7 separate regions of the Homo sapiens genome follow, and all the other regions are linked to region 4. The links come from fine-mapping of genetic effects on gene expression. A gene starts in region 4. Each other region holds a variant in brackets. All regions are shown on one strand. Distances are between the middles of the regions. Region 1 has its middle 8.8 kb from the start of MAEA. Region 2 has its middle 16 kb from the start of NKX1-1. Region 3 overlaps UVSSA (UV stimulated scaffold protein A). Region 4 holds the start of UVSSA (UV stimulated scaffold protein A). Region 5 overlaps UVSSA (UV stimulated scaffold protein A). Region 6 overlaps MAEA (macrophage erythroblast attacher, E3 ubiquitin ligase). Region 7 has its middle 120 kb from the start of FAM53A.

Region 1 (4,074 bases), 66 kb after region 4:
GGTACAGCTGTCACTAATGTACATGCCCACCGTTCTGTTAACTGGTACAGCCGTCACTACTGTACATGTCCACCCACCATTCCCACAGTTAACCAGTACAGCCGTCACTAATGTACACGACCACCGTTCTGTTAACCGGTACGGCCGTCACTAATGTACACGCCCACCCGCTGTTCCCACGGTTAACCAGTACAGCCATCACTACTGTACACACCCACCCACCGTTCCCACAGTTAACCAGTACAGCCATCACTAATGTACACGCCCACCCACCATTCTCACTGTTAACCTGTACGGCCATCACTAATGTACACGCCCACCCACCGTTCCCACTGTTAACCGGTACAGCCGTCACTAAAATACACGCCCACCCACCGTTCTCACTGTTAACCGGTACGGCCGTCACTAATGTACACGCCCACCCACCGTGTGTGAGAGCTCCCTTTCCTCAGCATCTTCAGCAGCATCTGTTATTTTTTGTCTCTCTAATAAGAGCCCGTGTAACTGGGGTAAGATGACGTCTCGTCGTGGTGGTGACTTGCCCTTCCCCGATGCTTAGAGGTGCTGAGCATTGTTTCATACACCTGTTGGCTGTTTGTCTGTCTTCTTTTGAGATATGTTTATTCCCAAAATAGACATTTCTATTTTGGGGGCTAAAAGTGCCCTCAGGCCACTTTCTAGTGGGATTTTTTTTTTTATTGTTGCTTGAGTTCCTTGTATACTCTGGATTTTAGTCCCCTGTTGGATGAATAGTTTGCAAATATTTTCTCCCATTCAACAGGTCGTCTCCACCCTCTGTTGACTGTTTCCATCATAGTGGGTTTTTTTGGGTTTTTTTTGAGATGGAGTCTTGCTCTGTCGCCCAGGCTGGAGTGCAGTGGCACAATCTCAGCTCACTGCAGCCTCTGCATCATGGCATTTATTTTATTTTATTTTATCTTATTTATTTATTTTTTGAGTTGGAGTCTCACTCTGTCGCCAGGCTGGAGTGCAGTGGCGTGCTCTCGGCTCACGGCAACCTCTGCCTCCCGGATTCAAGTGATTCTCCTGCCTCAGCCTCCCGAGTAGCTGGGATTACAGGCGCCCACCACCACACCCGGCTAATTTTTGTTTTTTTGTTTTGTTTTGTTTTTAGTAGAGATGGGGTTTCACCATGTTGGTCAGGATGGTCTCAATCTCTTGACCGTGTGATCCACCCACCTCAGCCTCCCAAAGTGCTGGGATTACAGGCGTGAGTCACCGCGCCTGGCCCACATCATGGCATTTTTAAAATTCATCATTTAATGTCATTCTAAGTAAAGAAAAATAAGCAGTTATTCACACGAATTGTAGTGTTCATCGTCACCTAACGCTAGTTTTATTTTTTATTTTTATTTTTATTTATTATTATTATTTTTGAGACGGAGTCTTGCTCTGTCACCCAGGCTGGAGTGCAATGGTGCAATCGTGGCTCACTGCACCCTCCACCTCCTGGGTTCAGGCGATTCTTCTGCCTCAGCCTCCTGAGTAGCTGGGACTACAGGCGCCCGCCAACTATGCCCGGCTAATTTTTGTATTTTTAGTAGAGA[G/C]GGGGTTTCACCCGTGTTAGCCAGGATGGTCTTGATCTCCTGACCTTGTGATCCGCCCGCCTCAGCCTCCCAAAGTGCTGGGATTACAGGCGCGAGCCACCGCACCCAGCCTGTCCAACGCCAGTTTTAAGTGCAAACATAAGCAAATCATAGTGTTCACCATCATTTGTCTGACGCCAGTTTTAAATGCAAACGTAAGTGCTTTAGTTCGAACTCTGCGTCACCAAACTCACGAGGCCTGTGCTTCCCAGCTCGATTGCACAGACCTGTTTTGTTCTTCTTCATGGAGTGCTGCATGAAGCTAATGCAGCTGTGATTTCATTTCTGATGTGCACATATTTTACCAATGCCCTCTACTTTTACTGACAAGTAAGGGGTGTCTGGAGGGAAAAGGAACTGTGGGTTGCCTCATCTTTCCTCCTGTCCACCATGTTCAGCACACGCAGTTCTAACGTGAGGAAGTCCCATGCGTAAGAAGTACATGATGGGGTATGTGTTTCTTGGCACTCCCCTGTTTCTTTTGTGTTTATAGCATGTTCTGGTTCAAACAGAAGGCATGGCCTCTCTGGACTTTGGGGCCACTGCTCACTCCGTCCTGGATGTGACACCCTCACTTGCACCCACTGGAAACCTTGCTGTCCTTCCACACCTCATGGACCCCTCAGAATTCTGTGTTCGTGGGGAACTACCCATGCTCTATGCAGCTGGGGTGCCGGGAACAGGTGCAGATGGGATGTCTCTCACCGTTGACCATCTTGTATATGCAAGATTTGGGGTTTTTTTGAGACAGAGTCTCGCACTTTTGCCAAGGCTGGAGTGCAGTGGTGCAATCTCTGCTCACTGCAAACTCTGTCTCCTGGGTTCAAGCAGTTCTCCTGTCTCAGCCTCCTGAGTAGCTGGGATTGCAAGCACACGCAGTTCTGATGTGAGGAAGTCCCATGCGTAAGAAGTACATGATGGGGTATGTGTTTCTTAGCACTCCCGTTTCTTCTGTGTTTATGGCATGTTCTGGTTCAAACAGAAGGCATGGCCTCTCTGGGCTTTGGGGCCCCTGCTCACTCCGTCCTGGATGTGACACCCTTACTTGTATTTACTGGAAACCTTGCTGCCCTTCCACACCTCGTGGACCCCTCAGAATTCTGTGTTCGTAGGGCACTACCCATGTGCACCACCACACCTGGCTAATTTTTGTATTTTTAGTAGAGACAAGGTTTCACCATGTTGATCAGGCTGGTGTCAAACTCCTGACCTCAAGTGATCCACCCGCTTTGGCCTCCCAAAGTGCTGGGATTAGAGGTGTGAGCCGCCTTGCCCGGCCGTATCTGCAGATTTGTTTCTTGAATTAAATTGGGAAAAGTTCCAGTTACGATTTCTTTTTTTTAATTTTAATTTATTATACTTTAAGTTCTGGGGTACATGTGCACAACATGCAGGTTTGTTACATATGTATACATGTGCCATGTTGGTGTGCTGCACCCATTAACTCGTCATTTACATTAGGTATATCTCCTAATGCTATCCCTGCCCCATCCCCCTCACCCCACGACAGGCCCCGGTGTGTGATGTTCCCCACCCTGTGTCCAAGTGATCTCATTGTTCAATTCCCACCTATGAGTGAGAACACATGGTGTTTGGTTTTCTGTCCTTGCGATAGTTTGCTCAGAATGATGGTTTCCAGCTTCATCCACGCGTCCCTACAAAGGACATGAACTCATCCTTTTTTATGTCAGCCACGATTTCTTTAATGATCTTTTCCTGCCCCATTCACTCTTGCTTCTCCTCCTGGGATGCCAATTACGTAAAGGTTGGACAGTTGGACACTGTGGTCTCCGTGGCGGTGCCACAGGACGGCAGGGCTCAGTCACGGCAAGCTGGGAGGAGCTGAGAGCCAACTCCTGTGCTCAGTGTGTCTGTTGGGCTCAGACACACAGGGAGCCAGAGATTTTGCGTAGACATGTGAGGAGAACTGCTGAGCACACTTCACACGGCAGAGCTCCTGAGCCGCGACCCTGGCGGGGTTGTGAGGAACAAGAGAGGATAGCCAACAAGATGGAGAGGAGATGGTGCTGGGCCATCCACACTAACCTGGCAGGAACTGGAGACCTGCTGGGGTGGTTGTACTAAACAGAACAGAGAAGGCAAGAAGAATGCAGTGCTGCACGGCCCCTGCACATCAGCATGGATGCTCCCAACGGGCAGAGCTCACAGAACGCAAGGATGCAGCCCTTGACCAGGGAGGAGCGAGGACGCAGAGGACCAGGGAGGAGCGAGGACGCAGAGGACCAGGGAGGAGCGAGGACGCAGAGGACCAGGGAGGAGCGAGGACGCAGAGGACCAGGGAGGAGCGAGGACGCAGAGGACCAGGGAGGAGCGAGGACGCAGAGGACCAGGGAGGAGCGAGGACGCAGAGGACCAGGGAGGAGCGAGGACGCAGAGGACCAGGGAGGAGCGAGGACGCAGAGGACCAGGGAGGAGCGAGGACGCAGAGGACCAGGGAGGAGCGAGG
Region 2 (4,074 bases), 75 kb before region 4:
GAGAACAGTTTGGAGGTTCCTCAAAAAACTAAAAAGAGAGCTACCATACGACTCACCAATCCCACTGCTGAGGACACACCCCAAAGAAAGGAAATCAGGTTACCGAAGAGATACCTGCCCTTCCATGCTTGTTCCAGTACTGTTCACAACAGAAAGATTTGGAAGCATCCTAAGTGTCCACCAGGAGATGAATGGATAAAGAAAACGTGGTACTTACACACAATTCTGTCATAAAAAAGAATGAGATCCATGGCCAGGCGCCATGGCTCATGCCTGTAATCCCTGCAATTTGGGCAGCTGAGGTGGGGAGATCACCTGAGGTCAGGAGTTTGAGACCAGCCTGGCCAACATAGTGAAACCCCGTCTCTACTAAAAATACAAAAATTAGCAAGGCGTGGTGGTGCACGCCTGTAGTCCCAGCTACTCAGGAGGCTGAGACAGGAAAATGGCTTGAACCAGGTGGCAGAGGTTGCAGCGAGCTGAGATTGTACCATTACACTCCAGCCTCGGTGACAAAGAGAGACTCCATCTCAAAAAAAAAAAAAAAAAAAAGAATGAGATCCTGTCATTTGCAACAACATGGATGGAACTGGAGGTCATTGTGTTAAGTGAAATAAGCCAGGCATAGAAAGACAAATTTTGCTTGTTCTTACTTATTTGTGGGAGATAACAATGAAAACAACTGGACTCAGAGAGAGTAGAAGGATGGTTCCCAGAGGCTGGAAGGGTGGTGGGGGTGGGAGTACGGCTAATGGGCACAAAGGGCAGGTAGAAAGAATGAATAAGACCTAGTATTTGATAGCACAACAGGGTCACTGTAGTTAATAACAATTTAATTGTACATTTAAAGATACCTAAAAGAGGCCGGGCGCGGTGGCTCACGCCTGTAATCCCAGCACTTTGGGAGGCCGAGGCGGGTGGATCACGAGGTCAGGAGATCGTGACCATCCTGGCTAACACGGTGAAGCCCCGTCTCTACTAAAAATACAAAAAATTAGCCGGGCGTGGTGGCGGGCGCCTGTAGTCCCAGCTACTCGGGAGGCTGAGGCAGGAGAATGGCATGAACCCCAGGGGGTGGAGCTTGCAGTGAGCCGAGATCGCGCCACTGCACTCCAGCCCGGGCGACAGTGAGACTCTGCCTCAAAAAAAATAAATAAATAAAATAAAGATACCTAAAAGAGTATAATCGGATTGTTTGTAACACAAAGGATAAATGCTTGAGGGGACGGATGTCCCATTCTCCATGATGTGATTTTTATGCTTTGCGCGCCTGTATCAAAGTATCTCATGTACCCCATAAATATACACACATACTCTGTACCCACAAAATTAAACTCAAACACAGTTATGTTAAATGTCAGTAATCTAAACATACCCAATTAAAAGGCAGAGATTGTTACAGTGAATTTTAAAAAATATCCATCCCACTACATGCTGGCTACACAGAACCCACTTTATATATGACTATATTTGTAAATTAAAAGTTAAAGGATAAAAGAGATATACCAGGGAAATGTTCATCAAAAGAAAGCTGGAATGGCTACAATATCTGATAAAGTCAACTTCAGAACGAGAAAAATTATTAGGGGTAAACAGACATTACATAATGACAAAAGGGTCAATTCACCAAGAAGACATAAAAACCTAAACGTGTATTGCC[C/T]TCATAACAGACCTTTAACTGAAAGGAAAAGTAACAGACTCACAACTCTAGCTGGGGCCTCAACAGTCCTCTCAGTATCAACAGAACAATTAGGTAGATAAGGAGGGAGGATACAGGAGAACAATACCATCAGCCAACAATTTCTAAATGACATTTACAGCATCTGCCATCCAACAGCAGCAGGACACACGTTCTTGTCATGTACACATGGAACTCTCCAGAGAAACCATATCCTGGCTTATAAAACAAAACTAACAGATTTAGAAGAATTAAAATTATGTAAAGCATGTTCTTTGACAATAGTGGGTTTAAACTGGAAATGAATGACCTAAAGATACCTTTAAAACCCCAGAGGCTGAGAAATTAACAATTACACTTGTAAGTAATCCATGGATCAAAGAAGTTCTCCTAGAAGAAATTAGAAAGCATTCTGGACTAAATACAAATGAAAATTTAAAATATCAAAATTTTTGGTATGCAGTTAGAGCAGCTCTTAGAGGGAAATTTTTAGCAATAAATGCTTATATTAGAACATCTCATTGACAACCTAAGCTTCTAATTTAGGTAACTAGACAAACAAGAGCCAAAGAAAACCAAAGCAATCAGAGGAAAGAATAGTAAAGATAAAACCGACGTCAGTGGAATTAAAAACAGATAACCAGGTGCAGTGGCTCATGCCTGTAATCCCAGCACTTTGGGAGGCTGAGGTGGGCGGATCACTTGAGGTCAGGAGTTTGAGATTAGCCTGGCCAACATGCAGAAACCCCGTCTCTATTAAAAATACAAAAGTTAGCCAGGTGTGGTGACACATGCCTGTAATCCCAGCTACTTGGGGGTCTGAGGCAGAAGAATCACTTGAACCTGGGAGACAGAGGCAGTGAGCTGAGATGGCGCCACTACACTCCAGCCTGGGTGACAGAGCGAGACTCCATCTCAAAAAACATAAGTAAATAAAATGTTAAGAAAAATAGAAACAAAAATATTAGATAAAATCAATGGAATCAGAAGCTGGTTCTTTGGAAAAGTCAATAAAAATAGGTAAAACTGATAAAGAAAGAGAAGATACAAGTGACCCATTACAGGCATAACAGAGGGGCTGTCACTGCAGAGCCCACAGGCATTGTAAGGATAACAAAGGAGCATTCCATGCACGGATTCAGCACCTCAGATGACTGGACCAATTGGAAATCCACAAACTACCAAGACTCACTCAAGAAGAACTAATAACCTGAACAGCCCTATCTCCACTAAAGCAGTTGAATCCATAGTTAATAACCTCCCAAAAAAGAAAACTCCAGGTCCAGATAAATTCACTGGTGAATCTTACGAAATATTTAAACATAAAAATAACTCCAATTCTATACAAAACTTAATCAAAAAATAGAGGTGGAAGTGACACTTTCTATTTTATTTTATTTTTTTCTCTTTTTTTTGAGTTGGAGTCTTGCTCTGTCGCCCAGGCTGGAGTGCAGTGGCGCGATCTCGGCTCACTGCAAGCTCCACCTCCCAGGTTCAGGCCATTCTCCTGCCTCAGCCTCCCGACTAGCTGGGACTACAGGCGCCCGCCATCATGCCCGGCTAATTTTCTGTATTTTTAGTAGAGACGGGGTTTCACCATGTTAGCCAGGATGGTTTCGATCTCCTGGCCTCGTGATCCACTCGCCTCAGCCTCCCAAAGTGCTGGGATTACAGGCATGTGCCACCATGCCCGGCTGGAAGTGACACTTTCAACTCATTTCGCAGGGCCAGAATTCCCCTAATACCAACACCAAAGTCATCACAAGAAAAGAAACTACAGGACAAAACCTCTCAGGCACATAGATGTGGAAATCTTCAACAAAACACTAGCGATCAAATCCAGAAACATGGAAAGCATGAGCACATGATGGCCAAGTGGGGTTTACCCTGAGAACACAAGGCTGTTCAACAGAGAACGCCAGCCATCACAATCCACCATGTCAACAGACGCAACGAGAGAAGCCATATGAGCCTATGGATACGGAAAAAAAATGTGATAAAATGCAACATCTGTTAATGATTTTACAAATTTCTCAGAAAATTAAGAATAGGAAGGAACTTCCTTAACCTGGAGCTATTATAAAATGTTTTTGAATTTTTAGGATTTAATCACTGATCGTGGGTATATAGAAATTAGATTGACCTTTTTCAGGCTTTTTCTCTGACCTTGCTGACTTATGAATTCTGGGTGCTTTTTCCTTGGGATTTTCTACGTAGATAATCATGTCGTCTGTATGCAGGGCTAGTTTTATTTTTTCTGTTTCAATATGTTTACATTTTATTTCTTTTTCTTGCCTGAAATATTTACAGGTGAAGCAACTTAATGTCTGAAGGTATATTTTAAGATTCCAGAATAAAGGTGTGGCTTTGGATACACAAAACCATATTGACACCAA
Region 3 (4,000 bases), 32 kb before region 4:
CAGTGAGTCCCAGGCTGTGCCTCCCACGGTGACCGCCTTGCCCAGACCTACCCGGGCGCTCCTGCTTCTGCAGCTGCCGCCGCTGCTCACGAGCCCTGTCTTCCGGGTCGAGCGGCCGTCCTTCGTCGTCCCGTGGAACAATCTTCCCATGGAAAGGGCACTGCACAGCGAGGACACGGTGGCTGATGGCGGGGAGGGGTCCGCTTGCCTTGACCACCTCCCCCCACCACCACGACTTGGGCACAAACAGCGACCAGGGTGGGTGGTATCACAGAGCCAAAGTGTACACAACCTGGAATCACGCGCCCCTCAGAGGAGGGCGTCCTGAGAGCCACAGGGACGTGGGGATGGCTCCGTCCCTCCTCTGGAGCCGGAAGGTCTTGGGCAGCTGTGGAAAGTCTAGGCCTCCCTCATCCAGCATGGCCATAGCGACCCCCCTGCACCATGCCCAGCTGCCCGGCTGGGAGCTGCCCTGGCCCCCTGGCCTCTCCTCACTTTTGAGGATCCCAGGCCCAGCACAGACCCGGGCTGCAACCATGGAGGATACTGTGTGTCTTGGCCCCTGGAGAGTCCCCAAGCCATGTACCCAGGTGTCAGGCTTCAGGGCCGTGGGCAGGAGCCCCAGACACCATGCTCTGATGGCCAACGGCTAAGCAATTTCTGCCCACCACGGATAAGCCCCTTCCATGGGCTTCTCAGTGCTCACAAGCACCCTGACCCAGGGCAGGGGCAGGTGGGGCTCAGCACCCCTCTGGCTGCCCCACCTGGTCCAGCCCACACCCACCCCCGCCCTCGGGCCACGGCCTCACCTTCAGCCGGTCTTGGCGCTCACAGAGCCGGCCGTCTGGCCTCGGGGCACGGCACCAGTGCTGCACAGGCTCAAACTTCCCGGCAAAAGTGATGTGGCGGCTCCGGAGCATCTCGGAGATGTCGGCATTGACCACTTCCTCCTCCACCTCGCTGGGCTTCCAGAAGCGGTGCTGGGAGTCAGACCTGCAGACACAGCCAGAGGCCCTCATAGCATCTGCAGGGACCCCAGAAGAGCGTGGCCACGGTGGTGCAGGCACAGGGGAAGGCCAAACACCACTGCAGCCCAGCCACCCCAACACTGTGGACAGCACCCAGGGAGAACACGGTCACTCCCGGCTGGGTCTGAATTCTGACGCCACATGAACCAGCCGCGCGACCACGGGCACGACCGCCTGCGTCTGAATTCTGATGCCACGTGAACCAGCCGCGCGACCACGGGCACGACCGCCTGCGTCTGAATTCTGACGCCACGTGAACCAGCCGCGCGACCACGGGCACGACTGCCACCTGCAAGATGGGCTCTCCCTATAGGACAAGGGCGACAGCTGCTGCGTCCTTGAGGCGTGACCTTGAAGGCCAACGGGGCATCCACATGAAGGTCGTCCTTCCACTGCAGGGACGTAAGGACAGGGCGGTAGCACACCCAGGAGAAGGAGTGAAGGCCGTTCAGCCCTTGGCAGCACAGAGGGGCCGGGTGCTGGAGACCAGACTCCACTGCCCCAGGCGTCCCAGGTCTCCCAGGCGTCCCAGGTGCGTCCGCTCCCACGCTCTGCTGTTGTCATCAACCTGGTTAGGGACGCTTTCCGGCGGATGCCATGGGATGGGGGGGCTGGGTGTGCCGGCCAAGAGGAGGCCGGCCTCAGAGGACTCCACCCCCTGCCCACCTGGATGCCCAGGCAGGGGAGAAGTGTCTGAGGGGCCCTCACACAGACCAGACTGCCCCTGTGCTGCCACCAGGCCTCCTTCTAGGACACACAGCCACAGTTGGGGCCAGCAGGAGCTGGGGAGGACAGATGGGCAGTGCCAAGGGCTCCCAGTGATGAGAGGCTGCTCATTGCCTGCTGACTGGGGAACGGTC[G/A]GCTCTGCCCGAAGCTCCCGGGCTCCCACACCCTGTGCCTGAGGATGCTGGAGGAGCAGAGCCCAGCAGCCCCGCCCTCACCCCAGGTCCACAGACAGGAGCACAGCCCCAGGCACGGCCCACGCTAGGGAGAAGGGACCAGCAGTAGGCCCTGCCCTGGGGCCGCCTGGACCTCATTTCTGCATCCACCTTGGTCTGGGATGAGGCTGGTTTGGGATAAGGCAGTGGGTGGGAACGCAGGCAGAATGTGCTGCCCAGGGCCTTGGCCCCACTACAGGCAGAGGCGTCTCGGGCAAAGCCCTGGTGGGCTGAAGAGCACCTGGCCATGTGCCCCGCAGTCAAGGAGGTACATGCGGCTCCCCCGAGGGTGCCTGACCGCCCGGCCAAATGCTTCCTGCTGCACCCAAGGCCCCGTGGGAGAAGCAGCGATGCATTCTGCCACCCGGAACTCGGACCAGAGACGCCCCGTGGATCGCAGTGAGAACACTCAGGAGCCGGCGCACAGCAGCCACACCACGGGCTCCACCGCTTCCTCCCCGTCCAGGTGCAGGGATGCTTCCCTCTACTCCCCTCGGCCGAGGACCACTGGCTATTTTTTTTTCAGACAGACTCTTGCTCTGTTGCCCAGGCTGGAGTGTGATGGTGCGATCTCAGCTCACTGCAAACTCCGCCTCCTGGGTTCAAGCGATTCTCCCGCCTCAGTCTCGAGTAGCTGGGATTACAGGCGCACGCCACCACGCCCGGCTAATTTTTATATTTTTAGTAGTGATGGGGTTTTGTCATGTTGGCCAGGCTGGTCTCGAACTCCTGGCCTCAAGTGATCCACCTGCCTTGGCCTCCCAAAGTGCTGGGATTACAGGCGTGAGCCACTGTACCCAGCCAGGGCCCGCCAGCCCTCTGTGTACCAGGACGGCTTTGTTCTAGTGGTTGCCTGTGGCCGCCACCCCCATCAGCCCTGTCTCCCACCACGGCCTGGCCAGGCCCTGGCTTCCCGGACCCGCATCATCTTGACCTCCTGGATGAAAGGGGCGAGCCCAGGCTCTCCGAGATCCCTAAATGTGGCTGAGAGCCAGAGGGCAGGACCCCTCCACTTGGTGAGGGAATGTGGGGTGAGCAGCCCCTGCCATCCTGGCTAGGGGCCAGCCAGGAGGAGTGTGGCCCTCAACTGGCTGTGGGGCACATGTGGCACCCAGGTGCCATCTCCTGCACCAGCCCATGTACCCCCATCCACGCAGCTGACATGGGGCCCTTCCCCAGCCCGGGCCGCTGCCATGTGTAGGCTGCAACTCCATCAAGCCGACCACAGCAGTGTGCAGGCAGTTGGGGGAAACATGAAGCCGTGAGCTCGATGCACCAGGTGCGTGGTGCTGACGGGCCAGGCAGGTGGAACGTGAAGCCAGGCCTGCCCAGCAGGGCCCCGGTGCCATCCAGGACTAACCGGGTCCTCACCAGCAGCTGCTCAGGCCTCTCTCTCAGCCCAACTGCCTGGGGGCTCAGGGCAAAGCCTGTGGTCCTGGGGACGGGCCAGGCAGGTGGGAGGAGGGACGGGCATCCGCTTCTCGGTGGGAGCTTTGCTGGGCGTCACCTCCCAGGCTCAGAAACCAAGCACTGGCCTTGGGGCACCCCTGGTGGCAATGTGTGACAGGGACAGCTGTTTCTTCCCGACCTCTCCGGCCGCTGAGCAGCCTGCCCAGCCCCTCCCTCCTCACACTGTCCCTAATCTGGCCCCCACTAGGGGCGGTGTCTGTGGAGCCCTGAGGACGGGGCCCTCAAATCTCAGTCCTGCTGTGAGTGAGACCAGGGCCTGCCTCGCTTACCATCCTGCTCTCGTGTGTCGTGTGTGAGCCCAGCAGAACCCCGGGAACACAGGCAGCTGTGGACAATGTGCCAGGACGTCCCGGCACTCGGGGCCCGTTCCTGGGCATCCAGACACAGAGGCAGTGGCTGCCCTGGGCACACGGTGCTCCTCAGGCCCTGAAGCTGCCCCAGGACCCTTGCCCGGCTCCCCTGCCCCCCCGCTCTCTGGAGGTTCTGACATCAGCCCCTCACACGGATGAGACGCTCCCGCATCACGCCCCGCAGACCCCGCAGCATTGGCTTTAGTGGTTACGG
Region 4 (4,069 bases):
CAAAAAATACTTGGTGAAATGTGAAAATCATATACACTTCAAATGTCGGTGTTCATTCACAAAGTGTCATTGGAACGTCGCCCATCTATCCACCTACATCATCTACAGCTGTGTTCACAACTGAGGCATTACAGCAAAGCCTGAAACACAAACCATCTGGCTCTTTAAACACACGTTACCTAGCGCAACACACACCGCCCGGCACAAACGCCCACCGCCCGGCACAAACGCCAACCGCCCGGCACAAACACACACCGCCTGGCACAAACCGCACACCGCCCGGCACAACGCACACCGCCCGGCACAAACACACACCGCCTGGCACAACGCACACCGCCCAGCACGCACACTGTTTCAGCTGGGTGCCTCCTGCTGCAGGAAGGAAGGAAGGCCTAGAGCTCGGGACATCTCCCAGCCCCTCCTGAATGCTCCTATTCCCAGCTCCTGACCCCACATAAACCATTGCGAATTCGATTTCCTGGCGCAGGCCACAAAACCTGACCTGAAATTTTCTATCAAAATGTCAACACTCCATCACTGTATAAACAATCTATAAACTGCCATTTTACAAACACAGGATACAGAATAATCAGTGTCCTCGACTTATGCTCCACCCTCCGAGGGGAAGTTTTGCTTCCCCCATGAATCTCTGGCTGCCTGAGGGTGACGGCAGAGATCCCCTCCGGCGTTTTCCTTGGAGGAAGTGAACAGAGGTGGACATACCCTAAAGGCGATGGACCAACTCGCCCATCAGCAAGCTCTATTCTTTCCCTTCGAAAAGTCCAGCAGCAAAGAAAAAGATGCACGTTTCTCTCTGAATCACATTTGTGCACTCAAGAACTCCTACAGGATGTGCTCCAGACCACACAAATGGGAATGAAGAGAAGCACCAACCACAGAGCAGTGGGGTCCCCAACGCCACACGCCCCGACCCCAGAACATGACCACCCGTCAGAGCCGGGTACTGCAGGGCCCCGAGAAAATGTCCTGGGTGTGTCCCTCGGGTGGTTCTCTCCCAGGTGGGGGCAGGAGGGCAGGGCCCTGTGTGTGTCCTGGGCTCAGTGGGCCAGTCAGTTACTGTTACTGAACCCTAAGACATACTTGCAAATTTTCTTCAGTTCCTTCATTTTCTCAGGATTTAGTCGGGGTTCTCCTGAAGTTGTGAGCTCTTCTACCAACTTCGAAAGTTTCTGATCCATATCTAGAAATAAGTAAGGCAGAGATGCTATATCACCATCTGTATTTTATAGCTCTCGGTGTTATTAACGTGTTTACTGGGTTCCACTATAAACCGAAAGCTCCGGGAGGACCCTGAGGCTGGGGTCCATCTGTGGGTGCCTCTCTGGGAAATATGTGTGTCCAGCAAGGCCTTTACGGCGGTGATTGCAGTTTTAAAAGTGAACCTTAAACTCGGGACCTCTACAATCCCGTGTGTGGGACGCTGCATTGAGGGTCGTGCGTTAAAGGAACCAGTGGCGCTGTCCGAATCAGCTTTTCCCCAACGTGACTGTTGCTGTTTCCCTTATTCACTCAGATTCCGCAGGGCAGCCTCCAGCAAGGCTGCAGAGGCCAAGAGGAGCCAAGAAATTCTGAGACCAATGAAAAGTCGCGTCCGGAGAGCAGGGGCGGCCCTAACGGAGGCAGCCTGCCCGGATACCCAGGGCCGAGCACCGCGGCGTGCCTGGTGGGATGAGGCGAGGGCCTGCCGCACCGCCAGGGAAAGGCCGAAGGACCCGGAAGGAAGCGCCAGGCGAGGCCGGGGCGGAGGCTGGGAAGCTGCGCCCTACTCGGGGAAAGAAGGGGCCCGGCAGGGCCACGCGAGGCTTGGACCGCGGGGTCGCTCTCGCACAGCGGCTGCACCGGGCGGGCGCGCCGGCTTCGACGGTGCTCGGGGGGCTGCGGCCTGTCACTCGGCCCAGGGCCCGCCCTCCGGCCCCGCCGCCGGCGCTCTCGGGCACACGGGACACGCCCTGGCCGCAGGTCTCTGCCCGGCGCCCGCAGAGCCCCGGGGACCGAACCGGCGCGACCCCCGCCCGGCAGCGTAACCACAGCCCCACCTACCGCTGACGCGGCCGCTCGCCTCGCCCCGCCCCTTCCGGCGGGGGGACCGCCCCTCTTGTCAGGTGCCCAAGACCTCTACCGCCATTGGCTGGCCCTGGGCCGGACGCATCAGGACCTGGGGTCACCACAGCGACGACTGCACCTACCGCTCGACGCGGCCTTTCTCGCCGTTGCCCCACCCTTTCCGGTCAAGGCCCCGCCCCCTAGCACGTGCCCTGAGCTCGACAGCCAATGGCTCACCCCAGCCCAGGAGGCGCAGGCGCAAAGACGCGGCCGAGGTCTGCGCGGTGACGTAGGCGCGCTCCCGGCGAGGGCGAGGCAGGCTGCCGGGGGTGGGGAGGGGGACGCACGAGAAAAAAGAGGCGGGAGGGCGCAGAAAGTCCTTAAAGGGGCCGCATGTACGGGCGCCGGGGGCGGGGCCGGCCGGGAAACTGAGGCCGAAAGGAAGTTCCGGTCTGGGCCTCAACGCCACGCCCGCCCGCGGGCTCGCAGCCAGGTCCCTTCACCTGCAGAGGGCCGGTGAGGACCGCCCAGACGGGCGGGCGCGGGCCCCCGCCCCCGAGCTCGCCCCGCGCAGGGCGCCCTGAACCCCGCGGCGCCTCCCCGCTCCGGCCTCGGGAAGGGAATCCCTGGGCGGGCTTGGGGGTCTTCGGGGCCCACCTCGGCGCCAGACGCACAGCAGGTACCCCTGGGCCCGGGCTGGCCCTGGGCGGAATGAGAAGCAGAGGCGCCGTCCGTCCTGCCGCCGAAGTCCGCAGCCTCGAACGCAGGGGAGTGCGAGGTCGGCTGCGGACGGACGGACCTGGAGACCGCGCTTGGGAAACCGTGGCTTCGGAGGAGCGTGGTGTGGACCCCACTCGCGGGGCGCCCGGCACAGGCCACGCAGAGCAGACGCCCGACTGGGCTCCCGGGGCTGGGTGCAGGGCGGGGGCCGCCGGCGGCGGGCCGGGGTTTCTTTTTCGGGGGGATGGGCGTGCCCTTGCATTACGGTGGTGGTAGCTCACAACTCTGTTAATCGTGTTTTTACAGGGTGGGTTTCAGGATGTGTGAGTTATATCTCAGTAAAGCAATTATTTTAAAAAGGAAAAGAAGAGGGACTCCCTGCGCCGCCCCTCTCTGCAGCACCAGCTTCTGTCCCTGGGCGTCAGTGGCTCCCAGCTCCTAGCTTGCAGCCAGCCCCGAGCCGCTCCTCCGCCTCACCCCTTCCTCACCCTGCCTCTTGCTTCACTGAGCAAGCTGCAGCCAGACCCTCCCTCAGCGCCCCTTGCCCTGTGCATCCAATCCCCGGCCTGTGGCTTCCTCCAAGGCACCCATCCAGCAGTTTCCCTCTGTCTTCTACAGCGTGGTTTTTTTTGTTGTTACTAGTTCTCATTAGTATAAAAGGGTGCCGTTTCTCCCATACTAACAAAACCCTCTCTTTATCCAACTTTTCTTACCAATTGCTAAGTCCAGTCTCCTTTACACTGCCCCGGGGTGTCCTCTCAGCCCTCAGGCTCAACAGCACAGCCAAGCTGCCCGTCCACTGCCCTCTGTATCCGCTGATGGCCCTGCAGCCTTTTTTTTTTTTTTTTTTTTTTTTTTTTTTGAGACAAAGTCTCGCTTTGTCACCCAGGCTGGAGTGCAGTGGCACGATCGCGGTTCACTGCAGCCTCCGCCTCCCGGGTTCAAACGATTCTCCTGCCTCAGCCTCCCGAGTAGCTGGGATGACAGTCACCCGCCACCACGCCCAGCTCATTTTTGAATTTTTAGTAGAGACGGGGTTTCACCATGTTGGTCAGGCTGGTCTCGAACTCCTGACTTCAGGTGATCCGCCCGCCTCGGCCTCCCAAAGTGCTGGGATTACAGGCGTGAGCCACCGTGCCTGGGCCACCGTGCCTGGGCCTGCCCTGCATCCTTCTGTTCGCTTGGACCAATTATCTGACTCACTTGGGCTTCTCTCTTCCTCTCACTCCATGCCCATTTGGTTTGCAAATCCTGACAGCCCTACCTTCAGAACACATCCAGATCT
Region 5 (4,070 bases), 40 kb before region 4:
AAGCCCAGCCTTCACTGGTAAATTCCACCAAATGTTTAAATAATTAACAACAATCTTTCACAAACTCTTCCAAAAAATAGGAGGGGAGGGAACACTTCCCACCTCAATCTATGAGGTCAGTAGTGACGTGACTAAAGCTAAAGACATCACAAAAAGACTACAGCCCAATATCCCTCATGAATACAGATGCAAAATCCTAGCAAACCAAAGCCAGCAGCATAGAAAAAGGATTATACACCATGAACAAGTAGAATTTGCCCCATGAATGCAAGGTCGGTTCAATATATGAGAAACAATGTAATATACTGTATCACTATAATAAAGGACAAGAATCATACTATCATCTCGACAGATGGAGAAAAAGCATCTGACAAAATTCAATACTTTATGACAAAAACACTCAACAAACTAGGAGGAGAAGGTAACTTTTTCAACCTGATAGAAGCATCTACACAAAACTGCATTGTTAGCATCACATTCAATGGTGAGAGACCGAAAGCTTCCCGCTAAGATCAAGAGTAAGACGAGGATGTCTGTTCTCACCACATCTATTCAACATTGTCCTGGAGGTACTAGCCAGAGCAATTAGGTAAGAGAAATAAAAGAAATCCAGATTAGAAAGAAAGCTGTTTGCAGATGACATGATTTTGTGTATGGAAAATCTTAGGGAACATACAACTAATTAGAATGAATAAACAAGTTCAGCAAGGAATGCTGGATACAAGATCAATACACAAAAGTCAGTTGTACTTCCACATATTAGCAATGATCAGCCCCAAAGTGAAATTTGGAAAACAATTACATTTGTGATTGCTTTTGTAAATGCAATTTATAATCTTTTAATAATTTATAATTGCATTTATAGTCCTTTTGGTTATAAATCAAAAATAATAAAATATGAGTAAATTTAACAAAATAAGTGAGAAACTTATATACTGAAAACTACAAAATACTGTTGAAATAAATTTAAAAAGACCCAAATAAATGGAAAGATAATCAGAAGCTCATGACTCAGAAGATTTAATATTAAGACGGTAATACATTCCAAAGCAATCTCTAGATTTAATGTAATTCCTATCAAAAATCTCAGCTGCTTTTTTTTTTTTTTTGAAGAAACTGATGAGTGGATCCTAAAATTCATTTGGAAATGCAAGAGATGCAGAAGAGTCAAAACAGCCTTGAAGCAGAACAAAGTAAAACTTCTCACAACAAAGCAGCACTGATCAAGGCACTGTGGCACTGGCATAAGGTTAAACAGGTCAATGGAATAGAGTCAAGTGCCCAGAAATAAGCCTGTACATTTTTGGTCAACTGATTATCAATAATGGTGCGAAGATAATTCAATGGGGAAAAATAATGTTTTCAACAAATGGTGCTGGGACAACTGGATATCCACATGCAAAAGAATGTGGGCTCTTACACCACACACAAAACTTAATTCACAATGGATCAAAGATCTACACATAAGAGCTGAAATTATAAAATGCTTATTAGAAACTAGGTGTAAATCTCTGTGATCTTGGATTAGGTGATGGCTTCTGAAATGTGACAGCAAAAGCATAAGCAACAAAAGAAAAAAACAGATAAATTGCTGTACTTCATCAAAATTAACTTTTGTGCTTCAGAGGACACTATCCAGAAAGTGAAACAACAGTATGGAAGAAAGTTTTTGCAAATCAGCTGAGTGCGGTGGCTCACACCTGTAATCCCAGCACTATGGGAGGCCGAGGTGGGTGGATCACGAGGTCAAGAGATCAAGACCATCCCAGCCAACACAGTGAAATCCCGTCTCTACTAAAAATACAAAAATTAGCTGGGCGTGGTGGTGCGCGCCTGTAGTCCCAGCTACTCAGGACGCTGACGCAGGCGAATCGCTTGAACCCAGGAGGTGGTAGTTGCAGTGAGCCGAGATCACGCCATTGCACTCCAGCCTGGCGACAGAGCAAGATTCCATTTCAAAAATAAATAAATAAATAAATAAAGTTTTTGCAAA[T/C]CACATGAGGATCTAGTATCCACAGTATACATATAAACTCCTGGCCAGGAGTGGTGGCTCATGCCTGTAATCCCAACACTTTGGGAGACCGAAGCAGGAGGATCGCTTGAGGCTAGGAGTTCGAGATCACCGTGGGCAACACAGTGAGACCTCATCTCTACAAAAAATTTAAAAAATTAGCCAGGTGTTGTGGTGTGTGCCTGTAGTCCCAGCTACCTGGGAGGCTGACGTGGAAGGATGGCTTGAGCCCAGGAGTTTGAGGCTGCACTGAGCTATGATTCTGCCACTGCACTCAGCCTGGGTAAGAGCAAAAGCCCATCTCTAAAAGGAAAAACAAAAAAAACAACTGTTACAACTCAAGATAAATCATTCAATTAAAAATAGGCAAGAGGTTTGAATAGACTCCTCTCCAAAGGAGATACACAAATGGCCAGTAAGCCCACGAGAAGATGTTCGGTATCCTTCTCCAATGCTGCTGTGAACATGGGTGCACAAGCTTCCGCATGGACAGGTTTTCACCTCCTTTGTTTTATACATTGGAGGGGAACTGCATGGATAAACCTTAAAAACAACGCCAAGTGTAAGAAGCCAGGGACAAGAGGACACATGTATGAAAAGGCACATCCAGAAACAGAAAGCAGATGACTGAACGGTTCACTAGCCTTTGTGTTTGTGTTAAAAACAGCATTTGCACAAAAGTGGGTTTCCCAGAGTTCCTCTGAGTGGTCGCCTCCTGGCTGGGGAATGCACGCTCTGAAGGCTGAGCTGCACACACATTCCGTCCGTGCTGAACCCCACACCACGACAAGCACTGGTCTCACGAGGACTCGCAGAAGCCCTCTGGAACAGGGTCGCTGCCTGTGTTCACATCTCCAGGCCCGAGGGCCTCTTCTGCGAGGCCAGACCCATCACCAGACGATGCCGAACCCTGTAGCAGCAGAGCGGCCGTACCTTCAGGGCATTGCAACACACCATTTCTTTACATCAAACACAGTAATAGACAAAGCATGGTTACTGCCCAGACCCACGCCCACTCTGCTGTCCTGAGACACTGGCAGAGGGAGAAAGTGCTGATGGCCAGTGCACTGGGCCCCGCTCTCTAGTTCAGTGCGTAGTTAAACTGGTTTGAAAACTTCTCGTGCTTCTTCTGGTCCATCCGGTTCATGGCTGCCACTACCCTCCGCACAGCTGCCCTGTGGGGAAACAAGGCAAGATGTGACCTGGGAGGCTTCCGCCAGGGGCCTGGGCTCCCAGTGGCGGCATCACCAAAGTTAGGCACTGGTCCTGGGGCAACTGCTGCCCTCGGACACTGACAGACTGCCTGTGGGTGCCACCTTCAGAGACAGATGGGCGACGGGCCCCTTGGCCCTGGCCCGAGACAGACAGGCTTAGAAAGGGCCGCCCCAGGTCCCAGAAGCGGAGTCTGCGGCGGGTGGTTCTGCGCGGTGAAGGTGGCCCCAGCCCCACCTTGGCACTTCTCCCGTGGCCTCCCGCACTCCAGGATGAGGGCAGCCTCCCCCTTGGCCTCCCGGGGAGCGGCCTCGCAGGAGATGCAGCCAGGAGGCGTCAGGACAGCCCTGCCCGCTGCTGCACGCACGGCTCCACGGCCAGGGCTGGAAACCTGGAGGGCTGCAGCAGGGGGGGCACGGGCCAGGCAGGCATTCCGGGGAGCAGGATGAGGTGTGCTGTGCTGACCAGCTCAGCTGCTGCGACCCACGAGGGTGTGGAGCTGTGGAGCCAGCAGGGCCTGAGGCCACAATGTGGTGAAGCTGCCGCTCAGCTGCGGCCCCTGTGGGGCTGCCAGGCGCTGCTGTGGGGGCCCCTCGAGGCAGGGTTTTGCCTGTGGTCACCCCAGATCCTTTCTGTAGGGAGGGGTCTGGGCCACACAGCTGTGGCGAAGAGCCAGCTCCTGCCATGGGCTTCAGTGTCCCCATGAGACACAGGGAGGAGGCCTGGCATGGGCCCACTGGCCATTCCTCCTCCTGGGCATCAGCACCAAGGCTGGCCTCTGCCCCTGGCTGATCCACGGGAAAACAGCCTCACCCTGAGCTCCAAGGGCTAAGGTGCCTTGGGTGGC
Region 6 (4,074 bases), 49 kb after region 4:
CGGTGATATAGAGGGTGGCGACTGGGTTTCGTGCACTTACTGTATGCCCCGTTATTGTGCTGACTTTCTCAATGGTTACATTTACTTCTATTTCAATTCTTACTGCTTTAGACAGAATTGCCAAAATAATATTTAATATTATTTTGTTCATTTGTTAATTGGAGAATTTATTTCTTCTCTATCCTTCAAAAGAGCTTATAATCCCAGTGGTCAGAAACAAGCAAAATACCGTTATGTGAGACAGCGGTCACGACTCACGAGGGAAAAGGGCAGAAGTGGGAGATGCTGGGGCTGCAGTTTCAACAGTGGAGTCAGAGAAGCTTCACAAGCTGACAGCTCAGCGAAGATTGAAGGAGGTGAGGACATGGGACCACGGACGTTGGCAAAGATTGAAGGTGAGGACATGGGACCATGGACATCTGTGGAAGGAGCGCTCCAGACAGAGGAAGGTGGCAGTAAAACCCTGGGCTCGGCATGCTGGCCTGGCTGAATGGCGGCAGAAAGGCCACTGGGCCCAGCACCCTACAGGGCAAAGGGCCTGGGAGCCACTGTAACGACCCTGGCCTTCATCCCCAGGTCAGGAAACTCCTAGAACAAAAAGACGACAGGATCTGGCGCTGGGGCAGCCGGGGTGGGCATGAGCAGAGCAGGAGCAGCCAGAAGGCTATTCAATATTCCAGAGAGAGATGCGACTTGAGCCGCAGGGGCAGAGGTGGGAAGAGCAGCAGCAGCTGGGCCTGGGCATGTCCTGACGCCAGGGTGGAGGGGCAGACGGGCTGGGCATGAGCTGTGACAACAGAGGCATCAAGGCCAACCTGAAGGTTCTGGCCTGACCAAGGGAGATGGAGGGGCTGCCCTTCCCGAAGAGAAGGGAGACTGGTAGAATTGGTTTGGGCAGCAGGTGTTAAGATGATAAGCTCAGATCTAAATATGCCAAGGAGCTGGGCATGGTGGCTCACACCTGTTATTCCAACACTTTTGGACGCCCAGGAGGGAGGAATGCTTGAGCCCAAGAGATGGAGACCAGCCTAGACAACGGAGCTAGAACCTATCTCTACAAATAAAAAAATTAGCCAGACACGGAAGCAGGCGCCCGTGGTCCCAGTTACCCGGGAGGCTGAGGCAGGAAGATCACCTGAGCCCAGGAGGTCAAGGCTGAAGTGAGCTGTGATCATGCCACTGCACTCCCGCCTGGGTGCCAGAGTGAGATCCCATCTCTAAAAATAATAATAATTTTAATAATAATAATTTTAATGCCAAAGTGCCTTGCCAAGTGGGTATGTTTTACAGGCTACTGGATACAGGGCTCTGGGGTTGGGAAGATACCTGCCTGGGAGTCATCAGTATACACAGAGGGTCCTATCAGTCCACTAGACCCTGTGAGAGCACCAAGGCAGCGGTGCTCACAGCAACACCCAGGGCCAAGGACTGAGCCCGGGGGGAAACGCGAGGATGGCGCTCTAGGAGCCCGAGGGGGTGAGCTGTGTTCCAGCCCTGTGAGAGGTCGAGATGGGCAGCAAGAATCCATCATGGGTCTCAGCAGTGTCTTGGGGTTACCTGGTGCCCTGACTATAGCACTGTGATGGGGGTAAAACCAGATGAGAAGCAATTCCAGAGACCCCAAGGCAGGGCTGGCTCAGACAGAGGGGACCTGTGGGTCCCGCACACAGTTAACCAGAAGACGGCGCGTGTGCCTCTTCGTGGATAACCAGAAGACGGCGCGTGTGCCTCTTCGTGGATAACCAGAAGACGGCGCGTGTGCCTCTTCGTGGATAACCAGAAGACGGCACATGCCTCTTCAGGTCACAGGGATGGGGCAGGGGGTCTGGTGCATGAACAAAGGCTGGCCTTGGGCGGGGCACAAATGACATATCTCCAGTAAAAGAAAGGAAACAGTGAGCACAAGCAGGCAGGCGACAGACAGGGCCAAGCCGCGGGCAGAGCACAAGGACGGGGCAGGCATGGGGGGCTCATGGAGAAGGAGGGGCATATGGAACAGTACCTGGGGTACAGGGTGCTAAAATGCCTCAAGAAGCATGGCTATGCTGCCAGGCAGTACTCGACACCCACTCCAGGCAGCAACCGGGTTCCTCAGCAGATAGGTGCGGCTTCTGTGGCCAGTGCAGGGGCCTTGCACAGCGGGGTTTCCATGCTGGAATGTTCTAGAACAATGGGAAGCAGAGAAGGGCAGGGGATGGGGCTACATCGCGAGGGGTGGAGGCAAGGGAGAAAGGAAACGCAAGAGGCTGACCACAGCCAGATGAGAGCACAGGCCATGAGACCAAGACATACTCTAGAATGCGGCAAGTGGACAAAAGTGAGATGCGAAGTTTAGGAATTTCCCAGACAGA[C/T]GGGGGAGAAATTGGTTCGGCCAACAGCCATTGACTGACTCCTGTGCCAGGCACTCGTGGGTGTGACGTGAACGACGACAAAGGACGGCCCGTGCCCTCGCAGAGCAGACGCTCTAAAGGAGACGCCCAACCAAAGCACAGAGAGATGCAGGCGACCGCGTCAGACTGTGACGAGTGCTGCAAAGGAAACCAGGCAGGCAAGGGACAAAGGGCAAAAGGAACCACATCCTAATTTTATTTAGGGCAGCAATGAGCCCACACTCAAGCGCGTGCTCTCTCTCTATATGTATGTATACACACACACATACGCACGTACTTTTTCAGGCTCCTCCAAAGCTAGAAATGGCCAGCCCCGTGCTCTGGGGAATGAGCTGAAGTGTAAACGCTTGGGAGGATGTCCACTAAGGCCCCCACGCAGGGAGCTGGCCACGCAGGGCGGCACTGATTCCCCCTTACCCTCCTCCTGGCCGCGAAGGCCGCAGCCCCAGCAGCCATCGTGGACTCAAGGATAAACGTGAGAAACAGAAATCGAGAAAACCTCCGAGTTCTCGGCTGTCACTGAACAAGTGCCGGGGGACATCGCTGTCAACTGACTTGGGAAGGGTGGCTTAGTAAGGCAGGTCTGGGGCTCGTCTGGGGCCCCAAGGCCGAGATGCGGCATTTGGTTTTGCGCCTGGTATCGTATCTTTGAACTGCCTTCCAGACATGCGAAGAGAGCTCCGGGAGGTGACTACACGGGATGGCCTCAGGGAGAGAGGCCTGGGGAGGGCAGCAGTGTGGGGACAGGAGCTTGGAGACCGTCTGTGAAGCCACACAACCTCTGGAGGGCTGGCTGGTGACATAAAACAAAAGGCCTCCAAGACTAGAGAAGACAGCATAGGCAAGTGAGGACATGCAGCGAGGGGTGGGGAGAGCCCAGAGGATGGTGTCACGGGAGCCGAGTGATGGGAGCGTCTCGAGGCAGTGGGGTCCGCTGTGGACTGACCGCTTTCAGGAGCATCATCCTGTCCTCAAGAGGAACATCTGGGTGGAGTGTTGGGGGGCAAAAATCTGATTTAGGTAAAACAGGAAGAGAGACATGAAGGGGCAGAGACAGGGAGTAGTAGCTGGAGGAGGACGGGGGCAAGGAAGGGGTTTTCACGAGAGGAAGACTCAGAGCCACGTGCACACCAGGGAGCTGCACAGCCAATGGGAAAACCGACCAACAGAGAGAGAACCAAGTGCAGGAGCAGCCACAAGGCAAAGGGCACAGCACAGGTGAGGGGGGCACAGCGCAAGTGAGGGAGGCACAGGCACGGGTGAGGGGGGCACAGGCACGGGTGAGGAACGGCACAGGCATGGGTGAGGGGTACAGGTGAGGAATGGCATGGGTGACGGCTGCACAGGCACAGGTGAGGGGGGCACAGGTGCGGGTGGGGGGGCACAGGTGAGGGTAGCATAGGTGAGGTGCAGATGTAGGTGGGGGGCGCACGTGAAGGTGGTGCAGGAGCAGGTGAGGGAGGAGCAGGTGAGGGAGGAGCAGGTGAGGGGGGCACAGGCACAGGTGGGGGGCACAGGTGAGGGCAGCACAGGTGAGGGCAGTGCAGACGTGGGTGAGGGGGGCACAGGTGCGGGTGGGGGGGCACAGGTGAGGGTAGCATAGGTGAGGTGCAGATGTAGGTGGGGGGCGCACGTGAAGGTGGTGCAGGAGCAGGTGAGGGAGGAGCAGGTGAGGGAGGAGCAG
Region 7 (4,074 bases), 220 kb before region 4:
GCGTCTCACTGTCCTCACCTGGCACACGTGGATGGTGTCAGAGCCAACCCGTGTAGATGGATAAGCCACCTCGTGGGGGTGCCAGACGAGGACCCAGCTGCTCTGTTGCTAGGCACAGGGCCCTGGCCTTCACTGCACGGCCGGCACCGAGCCCAATGCCAGGCACATGGAGGGTGCTCAGCCCACCCTGGCCGGGCCACTTCCTTTGTCCCCTCTGGATCCCTGTGTTTGTTGAGTGGCTGAATGACCCACTCTGTGTGATGTCTGAGGACTGAGCCACCCCTCTGGCTAAACACTGTCCGCACACTTCCAGGCGTGAGTTAGGAATTCCGTGCCCTTGCACCCTCTTCCTACCCAGGGTCAACCCCCCTCACAGCCCCACAGGTGTCCAGAACCCAAAGTTCTGTGGCCTAAGGAACCCCGCTAGATAAGCCAGGAGCTAACATCCCCGCCTCTCAGTGTCAGGAGCCCCTGGAGTGGGGTTGTGAGCACCAGGCAGATCTGCTGAGGATCTGAGCGGATTCCTCAGCCAGGTGCATCTACCGGCATCTGCCAGCCACAAGCCAGCCATGCGCCCCCTACGCGGGTGTCTCAGAGGTGGCGTGAGCCCCAGACAACGCCCTGGAGCTGGGCTGTGTCCAGGGTTCTGCCTCCCCCATGGCATGTTGCCTGCAACTTCATTTCTGCCCCAAAGTCTCCCCAAGAAAAGCGTGTTACTAATGCCATTGCGCTGCTGTATGAAGCCGGGGGTCTGGGGGTCCTTGGGGTGGGTGAATCTGGCCTCCCGGCTGCCATGGTTTCGGCTCCACAAAGGGCTCCCACCTCGGTATTCTGCTGCCCCACCCTTCCTCCCCCACAGGCAAGGACAGGGCAAGAGGGGTCACCCTGCACAGGCGGAGTGCTCAGTGCTGCCGTCTGGCCCTGCCGCTGGTTCTGGCCTTGCTCTCCTTGCACAACAGGCCCAGCCTCTCTTCATGGGCCTTCTCTTGCCTTTGCCCACACACCCCTGGGATCCAGGGTCGTCTGAGCCAAAAGGCCTTCGAGGTCATCCAAGGTCATCCAGGTCGTCCTGGACCACGGCACCCCAAACTCCCCTGAGCTCCCCAGAGGGCTGCCCAGCCTCTCAGAAGCACAGAGAGCAGCCTGCTGCAGCCCACTCCACATCCTGCAGACTCAGAGCCAGAGGCCGGAGAGACCAGGCGGGCTGTGGGGAGCTGGGCCCTGCCCGGTGCCCTGCAGGCTCCCCAGGACATACTGCCCTTGGCTGCCTACAGACCCACGGCCACACAGGAGCCCCAGGACCAACCAGCTCAGCCTACCAGAGACCTCGAAGCCGGGACAGCAGCTTGCCGGGCCTGTGCCGGGAGGGTCTGCCCGGGACTGCCGTCCATGTTCCGGCTGCGTGCTGCGGCCCACAGCCCCCATGGGGCTCCTGGGAAAGCCTGCCCCGGTGGCTCCACGGCTCTCCCAGCCTCTGGAGGACCCGAGGGCCTGGCGTTTCTCATGCCCCTCAGAGCTGGGTGCGCCGTGGGCGTTGTCAGGCAGCTGGAAAATTGAAGGGCTCGCGGGGCGCCCTGGGAAGTGCGTGGCCGCTCCCTTCTCTTTCGTCCATTTCCCCTCAAACAACTTCCCGGGAAATGGACGCGGATGCTTCTGACAGTGGATGATGGATGGTGCCGCAGAGCCTGCCCAGGAGAGCGCCGCGGGGCTGCGGGTCGGAGGCGGCGCGGGTGGGAGGCGGCGCGGGTGGAGTGGGGTGGGAGGTGGCGCGGGTGGGGTGGGGTGGGAGGCGGTGCGGGTGGGGTGGGTGGGAGGCGGCGCGGGTGGGGTGGGTGGGAGGCGGCGCGGGTGGGGTGGGGTGGGCGGGCCGCCCCAGGCTGTCTGTGGGCTGCATGGGAGAGGGTGGAGTTGGGATGGGGGCGCTGCTGGAGGAAGGACCCGCAGAATGAACTGTGCAGTCGTGGGGAGTGGGCCCTCCGGACACTCGCTGTGGGGACATCCCTGGCTGGCTTGGACCCTGCCCCATTCTCCAGCTGAGACCCAGCCCGCCCATCACCTCGCCGGGCCTCGGCTTCCTCATCTGTAAAATGGGCCTGTGCTTGCCCTGC[A/C]CCGTGGCGGCGTGAGCTCCAGGAGGTGCTGCTGGGCCGGAGCCTGGTGCACAGAAGGGAGCTCCCGCGGGTGGTGTGCTGGTCGCTGGGAGGCCTCAGGGTGTGCGGGCCCGGCCTGCCCCGGCTGGGAGACTTCCACCTTAAGGTGTGAGGAGCCCTCCGTGGCCGAGTTCTCCTCCGCCCCCGCCGCCCTGGTGACAAATACTAATGTCTAAATCAGCAGCCGCAGGCCGCCGCCTGCCGTGTTCTTTGCTGAAATGTCACCTGTTCCTATCTAACGATTTGCATAATGCAAACCTTCTCACTCGTAAAATACAGATTAAGAGGGGAAGCCGGAGTCATTCTGGAACCAGGGAGCCATTTCAAAGGGAACGAGGAGGGAGGCCTGGGAGGCGCCGTGCTCTTAACCCCGTCCCTGCCGGCCCTGCCTGCACCTCCACAGCCGGTCTGGCCTAACACACTGGGGCCGAGCTGGGGTCAAGGTTGATCCCATGATGCTGGGCGGGTCCAAGCTGTGGAAGGGCGGGGCGTGCTGCCCAGCCCTTCCCCTGGTCGCACGTGTGGACGGCTGTGTCCCCCATCCCCTTGCACCTTCCACCCATGTGTGGAGGGGAGGCTGGAGGGGCCGGGGGCCCTGGGCTGGGGCTGCTCCTGGTAGGTCCTTGGGGGCCTTTCGGGCTGTCCTGGCCCCAGGTGTTTTAACGATGTGGCCTCAGGCCGAGGAGGGACCCCGAGCCCAAGTCATGATTAGGGGTTTCTCCAGCCCCCCAAATCTGGCTGGGTGTGTGGTCTCAGCAAAGGGGGAGCAGGTGCTGAGGAGAGAGGAGATCCCAGGACTCTGCTGGGCACAGGGGGCGTGGCCAGGGCCACCCCTTCAGCCTGGGTTGTGGGGCCATGGCCAGCTTCTGGGCCGGAGGAGGGGGCAGAGGTCCTGAAAGTCCCTGGTGGGGGATGGCGGGGGACAGGGCTGCTGCAGGGGGTGGGAGGGGAGCTCAGAGGATGGGGCCTCTCTTCCGGCAGGAGGCGAGGCTGCTCCCCGCCCTGCGCAGCGAGGAGTGGGTGGGCCTCACGCAGCCCCAGGTCCTTCATGCTGCAAAGCCAGCACCCGCCCGCCGGTCCTGGACCTTGCCCCCTCCCTCTCTCCCTCCACTGGTCTGCCCTCCACCAGTACCGGGTACCACCAGCCCTGCTCCTCCAGCTGCCCTGGGAGGGTCTGGGCTCTGGCAGGGTGCTGGGGAAAGGGCTGCACACATCTGCAGATCTGAGCCCGCAGGGTGGGATGCTGTGAAGCCTGGGACTGCAGCGGAGTGAAGGTAGAGCCTGAGCGGCACCAAGGACAGGGAGGCCCCGATGACTCAAGGGTCAGGAGGAGAGGCGAGAGAGCCGAGGCTGCAGCTGATGTGGAAGGGCAGTGGGTGCCTGACCTGACGGGGGTGGGGGGACCCCCTGGCCCAGCCCCTGCTCCAGGAGGGTCACAAGGGAGGGGCTGACTTACAGGCCTTCCCTGTGGAGAAGAAGAGAGACCTGGGGCTGGACCTCCCCAGGAGCCCCCCTCTGTGACTCCACCCAAAGGGAGCCCCGCTCACCTGGAGCTACACCCAACCTGTGACTCCCGCCAAAGCCACACCCACCTGAAGCCACACCCACCCGGAGCCACACCCACCCAGAACCACACCCACCTGTGACTCAACCCATATTCCCGCTCACCTGGAGCTACACCCAACCTGTGACTCCCGCCAAAGCCACACCCACCTGAAGCCACACCCACCCGGAGCCACACCCACCCAGAACCACACCCACCTGTGACTCAACCCATATTCCCGCTCACCTGGAGCTACACCCAACCTGTGACTCCCGCCAAAGCCACACCCACCCGAGCCCCACCCACCTGGAACCACACCCACCTGTGACTCCAGCCATATTCCCGCCCACCTGGAGCCCCGCCCCACCCAGAGCCCAGTCCACC

What was found.
Region 1: its variant is fine-mapped to the expression of UVSSA in whole blood (TOPMed, PIP above 0.99).
Region 2: its variant is fine-mapped to the expression of UVSSA in transverse colon (GTEx, PIP above 0.99).
Region 3: its variant is fine-mapped to the expression of UVSSA in whole blood (TOPMed, PIP above 0.99).
Region 5: its variant is fine-mapped to the expression of UVSSA in thyroid (GTEx, PIP above 0.99). The same link has a PIP of 0.9 or more in testis.
Region 6: its variant is fine-mapped to the expression of UVSSA in whole blood (TOPMed, PIP above 0.99).
Region 7: its variant is fine-mapped to the expression of UVSSA in substantia nigra (GTEx, PIP 0.98).

What each region holds. Positions count from the first base shown.
Region 1 is chr4:1,279,014-1,283,087 of GRCh38, reverse strand. No RefSeq gene overlaps it. Among named protein-coding and RNA genes, the nearest start is that of MAEA, 8.8 kb to the left of the region's middle. The variant G/C (reference allele first, on the strand shown) is at 1,569.
Region 2 is chr4:1,420,613-1,424,686 of GRCh38, reverse strand. No RefSeq gene overlaps it. Among named protein-coding and RNA genes, the nearest start is that of NKX1-1, 16 kb to the right of the region's middle. The variant C/T (reference allele first, on the strand shown) is at 1,661.
Region 3 is chr4:1,377,040-1,381,039 of GRCh38, reverse strand. UVSSA (UV stimulated scaffold protein A) reads right to left here. Exons shown (of 14, transcript NM_020894.4): 11 at 810-993; 12 at 52-160. Among named protein-coding and RNA genes, the nearest start is that of NKX1-1, 27 kb to the left of the region's middle. The variant G/A (reference allele first, on the strand shown) is at 1,889.
Region 4 is chr4:1,345,222-1,349,290 of GRCh38, reverse strand. UVSSA (UV stimulated scaffold protein A) reads right to left here and starts at 2,083. Exons shown (of 14, transcript NM_020894.4): 1 at 1,531-2,083; 2 at 1,102-1,201. The coding sequence starts at 1,199. RefSeq lists enhancers at 1,395-1,474, 3,320-3,842, 3,843-4,069 and silencers at 1,705-2,144, 2,385-2,714, 2,935-3,024.
Region 5 is chr4:1,384,984-1,389,053 of GRCh38, reverse strand. It overlaps UVSSA (UV stimulated scaffold protein A), which reads right to left. Exons shown (of 14, transcript NM_020894.4): 14 at 1,005-3,186. The coding sequence ends at 3,093. Among named protein-coding and RNA genes, the nearest start is that of NKX1-1, 19 kb to the left of the region's middle. The variant T/C (reference allele first, on the strand shown) is at 1,994.
Region 6 is chr4:1,296,044-1,300,117 of GRCh38, reverse strand. All of the region lies in intron 1 of MAEA (macrophage erythroblast attacher, E3 ubiquitin ligase), which reads right to left. Among named protein-coding and RNA genes, the nearest start is that of MAEA, 8.2 kb to the right of the region's middle. RefSeq lists an enhancer at 2,108-2,821. The variant C/T (reference allele first, on the strand shown) is at 2,352.
Region 7 is chr4:1,566,451-1,570,524 of GRCh38, reverse strand. No RefSeq gene overlaps it. Among named protein-coding and RNA genes, the nearest start is that of FAM53A, 120 kb to the left of the region's middle. RefSeq lists enhancers at 1,687-2,504, 2,505-3,323, 3,324-4,074. The variant A/C (reference allele first, on the strand shown) is at 2,109.